2 linked regions of the Homo sapiens genome follow. The protein of the gene in region 1 interacts with the protein of each later gene in a pairwise test. Each region holds a gene or a part of one and is shown in the gene's direction. Other genes may lie near its edges.

What was found.
Region 2: the proteins of UGT8 (region 1) and ADRA1A interact in a two-hybrid assay, tested with the Homo sapiens proteins (one large-scale study listed by BioGRID and IntAct).

Annotation. Positions count from the first base shown.
Region 1 is NC_000004.12:114,605,164-114,608,996, forward strand, and holds part of UGT8 (2-hydroxyacylsphingosine 1-beta-galactosyltransferase precursor), read left to right. Parts: intron 1-3,833. UniProt on the Homo sapiens protein: Catalyzes the transfer of galactose to ceramide, a key enzymatic step in the biosynthesis of galactocerebrosides, which are abundant sphingolipids of the myelin membrane of the central nervous system and peripheral nervous system.
Region 2 is NC_000008.11:26,770,576-26,773,393, reverse strand, and holds part of ADRA1A (alpha-1A adrenergic receptor), read left to right. Parts: intron 1-2,727; coding exon 2,728-2,818. UniProt on the Homo sapiens protein: This alpha-adrenergic receptor mediates its action by association with G proteins that activate a phosphatidylinositol-calcium second messenger system. Its effect is mediated by G(q) and G(11) proteins.

The DNA of each region.
Region 1 (3,833 bases):
AAATGGTACCTTTGGTTTATGAATGGCAGGGCATCTAGGACAGTGTAGGTCAGTTCGTATTCTCTGGATGGACATTTATGTAAATATTAAAACATTTAGATTAGATGGAAAGATGTATAGTAGGAACATTTCAGAGATACTGTTTCCTTGTAGCATTGTACTATTTATCTGAATTGTTAATTTGGAATAATCACTATATTGATTTTATTTTGAAGATATAATTTATTTCCATTGACTTGATATAAATAACAGAAATGCATCTGCAAGGAATCCAGTTCATTAAAGAAATTTACATTCGTATCTGATTTGGTAAATATGTGCTTGATTTGGGAATATTATATAACAAAATATTTGTGAAATCATTTTGTACTTTTTAATTGTTTTGAAGAAATTTAATACTCAAAATATTTCAAGACACCAAATCATGACTTTTTAGTTATTACATTAAGCTATAACTTGCTTTAATGAGTAAAAACTGTGGGGCTAATTTTCTTCCAAGTGAAACATCAAGTTTAAATAATGTGCACATGAATTTACAAAGTAGAATCAAGTGTGCAAATATGCTATATGTTCTGTAATAGGTTCTTGAAAAGCTGTATATAAACTCAGCTTTTATAAGTTGAGTCATATTTATAGAATAAGAAAATAGGGCAAACATTTAACACTTCTTAAATATTAAGTGATGGGCATACAGATGTTTGTTATGTTAATCTTTATATTTTTCTGTATGTTAGAAATAGTTTACAGAAAAAAATTGTGGTTAGTGACATTAAAGCACATTATATATTAAATATACTCAGGGACTTTGAAATTTAAAGCAATATCAACATACAATTTACCATAGAAAAAATCCTATTCTGATTTTATTAATACCTGTTTTGCAAATTCAGAATTTTTAATGGGTTTAATTAAGCAGATACACACACAACAACAACAACAACAAAAAACTTGGACACACTTCTGTAACACATCTTGAATATAGTCTCATCTGTTGGAATTTTTTAAACTTCTACACTTAAGTCTTAATCTGATTCTCCCTCATCCTCATAATATTCATTATTCAGAGGAGAGGCATCAACAGGAAGAATTCAATTTTACTTAAATAAAAATTTTTTACTAGCAACGGAATGAGTGATTCAGTGGTGGTGTCTTCCTGCTTTGAGAGAGCTGTTCTAAGACTAGGCAGTTAGTCTTAGGCCTAAGACTAGGCAGTTAGTCTAGGGGCTCCACAGCAGGCCCTTCCTCTGGGTTCTCTTTATGAAGAAGGCCTTTGTGTTTTACATAGATTTTGCATTTGTGCTGCTGTCCCTATTGAGTTGTTCTCACCAAGCCAATCTGGGGAGTAGCTCTTAGGGGAAAACTAGTCAAACAGGTTTGCCTGTCTATTCAAAAGGAGGGAAGAACGGTGAAATGTATGGATAAAGGCCAAGAGTAAAACTGTTTTAAGTAATATTCATGCTAATCACTGACTGTTGGTTTTGAAAATACTTTGTAGACATTTGTGAGAATGTATCTTAATGGAGATAAAGTAAGAGAGAAACTGGAAGGGGAAGTAGTTTAGAAGCAGGGGATAAGGACAAGATGGGGAGAAGGAAGGGAAAAACAATGGAGGCAAAATAAGCTCAAGAAGGAAAGAATAGTGTTTCAGTGTCATATCTGGGCTTTATGTAAACTGGGTGTGTTATAGCAGGAAACCATGGTATTGATCTGAGAATGAATTTAATTAAAACAAACAAAAAACCCCCACATGCCTGTGATCCTCAATGTCCAAAATAGGGAGCGTCTTGCCAGGGCAGGGCTGAAGTTTACTAGGAATATTGGTGGGAAAATGTTATAGTTAACCATCTCTGATACTAATCTTATATTAGAGATAATACTTGGTTTCCCCTAGTAAAGTGTTAGAGTCATACAGCTTTATTGTAGTTTGCAAATCTATTACACATATATTTCTACTGTTTAGTTCTCATTCTGCCCCTGAAGCATAGCCCTATAGGTAGTAGCATTTTACAGCTCATAACTTGGTAGAGTCCCAAGTAACCTTTGGAAGTCAAAATGACAATCCAGTCTGGGGAATTTGATGTTAAAACTAAAGCTTCTTGCCTAGAACAAGTTTTGGAACTATAGCTCACCACCTGCCTCATGTTCTGGGAATGCTGAACCTTGATCCCACTGAAATTACCTTTAAGTAGTCTTTCTGTAGTCCTCAGTAATCTCCTCCTTTGCTCCATGCTTCTTCCCTGCTCCTTGAGAGTTCCTTCTCCTTTCTCATCTGTAATGGTAACTCCCCATCTGATCTTTGGTTGTGCCTCTTCTTCCTTCCTGGCATTTTTATTAACATCTTTTGTCCCAGCACCTCTCCTCTTCTCTATTCTCACTCCTTTGGTGTAGTTATTCATGCCCATAGACTGGATTTTTATTTATATATAGATGATTCAAAAAGCTGTATTTCTAATTGTGATTTCTTCTATACTCTCAAGAGCTTAGAGTTCCCAGCTCAACTTCCTAACTCAGATCTGACATCCCCATTTGCCTCAGTCTTCGAAGACAGATTTTGGTGTTGTGGAATTCACTTTTTTACCCTTTATATCTAATCTATTCCTAATTGATCACTATGTCCTTCATGAAGACCTTCTTCCCTTGCCTGAGTCTTTCCATTCACCTCCTGATGTCTTGGTGTAGTCCCACATCACTTCTTCACCAGTGGTACTAAATGACTCATTTTCACCATTACCTGGGCCTTCCATCACCTCCTACTGCCCACAACCATCAGTCACTTGTCCTTACTGACCCACTTGCCTTCTTTGAGTGTGATTTGACTATGCGTTTATTTTCACATGGGGATCCAAAATTTTTAGCATGGCTTTCGAGGCTGTCTATTGTCTAGCTGCTTTCTGATCAGACTTATTTATTTTCTCATATTGCTCAATAGGATTCTATCCTGTTTACCCACTGGGGCATTCATTTCAGGATATCCCCCCGCTTGAGATGTCCTGCCTTTTTTTTCTTCTGCACTTCCAAATTCTCACCCAAGGTTTTGACACTCAAGTCCCACCTCAGACTGTGGCTTCCCAGTCTCTGTCACTTTTCTGTGACTTTGATTTGTACATATATTGATGTTAGCAATTAGGTTTCATTCTCCCTCTAAGGAGAGTATGAACTCTTAGAGGGTGGAGTCTCTTGTCTCCTCATACACCTTGGACAAACACTATTGATCAGAGAGAAGATATTCAAACATGATTGAATGGTATCTTTAGTTTGTCATGAGGCAATAAGGGTAAGTTTCCTAATTTTCTATACGTATTTTGATTTTTTCCTGTTGTTTTTTCCAGAACTGCATCATTCAAACTTGAAACATTCCCCTATTTTTTTTTAACAAGGTGTTCTATATAGGAACAACATATCTTATAGGGATTGCTACATTATTTAGTCACAATGGAAAAAAAAGTTTGATATATAGAAAGATTATATAATAGTTACATGGAACTCTACTATAAAATTATAATGGTTTAGTGGGTTTTCTTTTTTAAATTTACCTGGGGCTTCTATAGGTGGATGTGCATTCACAACTAATTCTAGGTAATGCTAATAAAAGAAAATAATCACGGTGATAATTAACTGTATTTAGTTTTTATTTTGTATTTACATTTCAATGTAAGTATGCCTAATGTCATGAAACCATAGTTGGAGAAAATAATGATTATATGCATGAGGAAGATAACTTAGGAAGCATTCTAATTGTCCAACTCCCCACTTCCCCATAGACCTTTTATAACAATTAAATCAAAGCACCAGCCCAGGAATAATTCTTTTTTCCATTCTTTGTGCCTATTTCC
Region 2 (2,818 bases), on another chromosome or scaffold:
CAAATTTTTTTCTGGAACTGACCGCATTTGCACAAAACCATCAGTCATGTTGGCATTAGCCATTTTTTCCATCACAGATGAGGTTCGAAAAAGCATTTTTCCAATTCAGCTTCCCCCAGCTGCACACTTTATCACTCCCCATCAGCTATCCTCCTAAGAGATGTATTATTGCAGTATATTTGGAGATTCCACAAAGGAGCATGGGCCCTGAAATCAATCACACTGCCTAATTTCAAACCTACCAGTAACTATGTGAGTGACCTCGGTTGAGCTACTCAAACTCATTAAGCCACAGTTTCTTCATTTGTAAAATAGGGAAGAGTCACATAACTCTTCATGTTACTAACGATGATTAAATCATATGGAAAGTGTTCAGCACAGTGCCTTGCCTGTTTCAAATCAGGCATTCAAAGACTGTAAACTTTATTATAATTATAGGACAACATGAAAAGCTTTAGAGCTAAAGAATAAAACTTTCTCACTTTACATGTTTTCCAAATAAACACCCATTGTGTGTGTGTGTGTGTGTGTGTGAATTTGAGACACATGGAACTTAGCAGGGAGTGTGCTTCAGAGGTAATAAATGCTCCCATCAACAACCACACTATTGTGTCTTCTTTGGGTTCTTCAGTATTTAAGTTTACTCTTTGTTTATATTGATGAGCTTTTTGACTTAATTTCAGAGCACTGTTTGCCAGAGTGGATTTTAATAGCACCAGCAATTTGTCACGGCTCTGATAGGTCCACAGAGCAGAGAGGAAAAGAAAGACATAAAATCAAGACCTTAGGTTTGAAACAACAGCAACAAAAAAATTGTTCAGGGCCATTAGGAATCATCCATTCAACATACTCCTTTTTCAGATAAGAAAACTGGAGGCCCAAAGGCATCATAGGAGTTTCCCAAAGCCATTCTACCAACTGTACACGAAGCTGTGACTAAAAGCCCGCGGAGAAGGAAAAGGAGCTTGGGAGCCAAGAAAGAAAAGAAAGGAGGTGGAAGGAAAGTCAAGATGTTATTTTGCAATTTCTCTGAAAGGAGTGAAGAGGGACGTTTGGGATTTCATAATTCATAAAGCTCCTTTAGCAAAAGCCCTTGGAAGTCTGAGAATCAGAGAATAAAGAACATTGGATTGGGAGTCCCATACCCTTTATCCATCACTCTTATCAGTATTGTAGCTATGAGGTTTGTGACAATCTCTTTAATAAGCATTTTTAAGAGTTCAGCTTTTTATTGAACGTGTTATAAAATAGGTTTACTCAAAAAAAAAAAAAAAAAGCCCATATTATCATCAGACTCCAGATTCTTCTTTCTTTGCTTCCACCTTCTTCTTCTCGGCCTAGGCCACAGTGACAGAAGGGCAGGACCTCCCGCAGGTACACCACCAGCTGCTGAGCAGGTCTTCCCACCCCGCCCCTCCACTGCAGAGGAGGCTCCCGAAGTTGACGATGGCCAGGGCCTTGGCAGACAAGCCAGGCCAAAAGCCGTCATCATTTACCCCAGCTGCTTTAGAAACGACATTGACCTTATCCTATGTGATGATCCCCTCAGCGTTATACAGAATGAGGGCTGAGTCAGTGCAGGCGAGCTCTGAGATGGAGTCCGTGGTGTGGACAAGTGCAAGGCTGGGCTGCCCGGAGTAGTGCTAGTGCTGGATGCAGTGAGGGCCTGACCCCAACGCAGCCTCAGCTCAGAAGGGCAGAGCATCTTGGCGGCAGCTGGGAAAAGGCTAAATAAGCATTTTTTAAATTTGTAAATTGAGTAATTGGAGGAGATAATCCTTAAGGTTGTTCCATTTTAAGACTTCACAGTTTTGTTCTTCTGCTGCGAAATGCCCTGTGGCAGTCTCTGCGCAGGATGTGACGGGTCCTGAGGCCTGGTTCCTGCCGTGCACATCAACGGGTAGGGTTTGGGTAGGTAGAGAAGGTGGAAAAGGGCATCAAGGACACAGTGGCCCAACTTGAGAGGACAAAAAAAATGATCAATGACCTGGAGAAAAAGTGTAGTGAGTCTGGCTAGAGAAAAAATAGCAACTAGTCATATTAGAAAGCTGGTTAGACCAGAGGCTGTGGAGGACTCCGAATGTGAAGCAAAGACACACATTTGGGAGACATCGAGGGATATTGACAAAGGGAGCTAACGGTGACATCAAAAGACATCATCTAGGAAAAGTGATTGAGAATCACTGGCCCAACTTTGGCAAGGCCAATATTGTGTAAAGTTGAGATTCTCATCAAAATCCATAATTCTAACATTTGGGAGGGGAGGAATTCATAAACACTGAGGCTGTGTCTGTTGCATAACACTGCATCAGAGAATAAAGGGCATGTTCAGATAACCGAATTTTAATATGGATTACTTGCATGGATTCCAACTTACTTTTCAATTTAGGCAAAACAATTTACATATGTGGACTCAGTCTGAGTTTCACATTTTCATTTGGTAAAACTTCACAGCAGCTGTTGGTCACTGAGAGCCAGTGCAACCCTACCCACTGGGCCTGCTCCTGTAATTAATGACACACGCGGACCAAGTAGGAATGGTCTTTGAAGATATTGCAAAAGGGTGACAGTCATAGGAGCTAGTCAGTCAAATGTGAGAAACTCATATGTGTTTGGGATCATTTTAACCGTTTAAAAATACAGAAAGATGTCTGTTTGATTGTTTTCCTAGCCAATTGGCTTGCTGGCTTTCAAATAATATGTATAAATCTGTGTGTTTTCTTCCAGGGTCTTTCTTCCCTGATTTCAAGCCCTCTGAAACAGTTTTTAAAATAGTATTTTGGCTCGGATATCTAAACAGCTGCATCAACCCCATCAT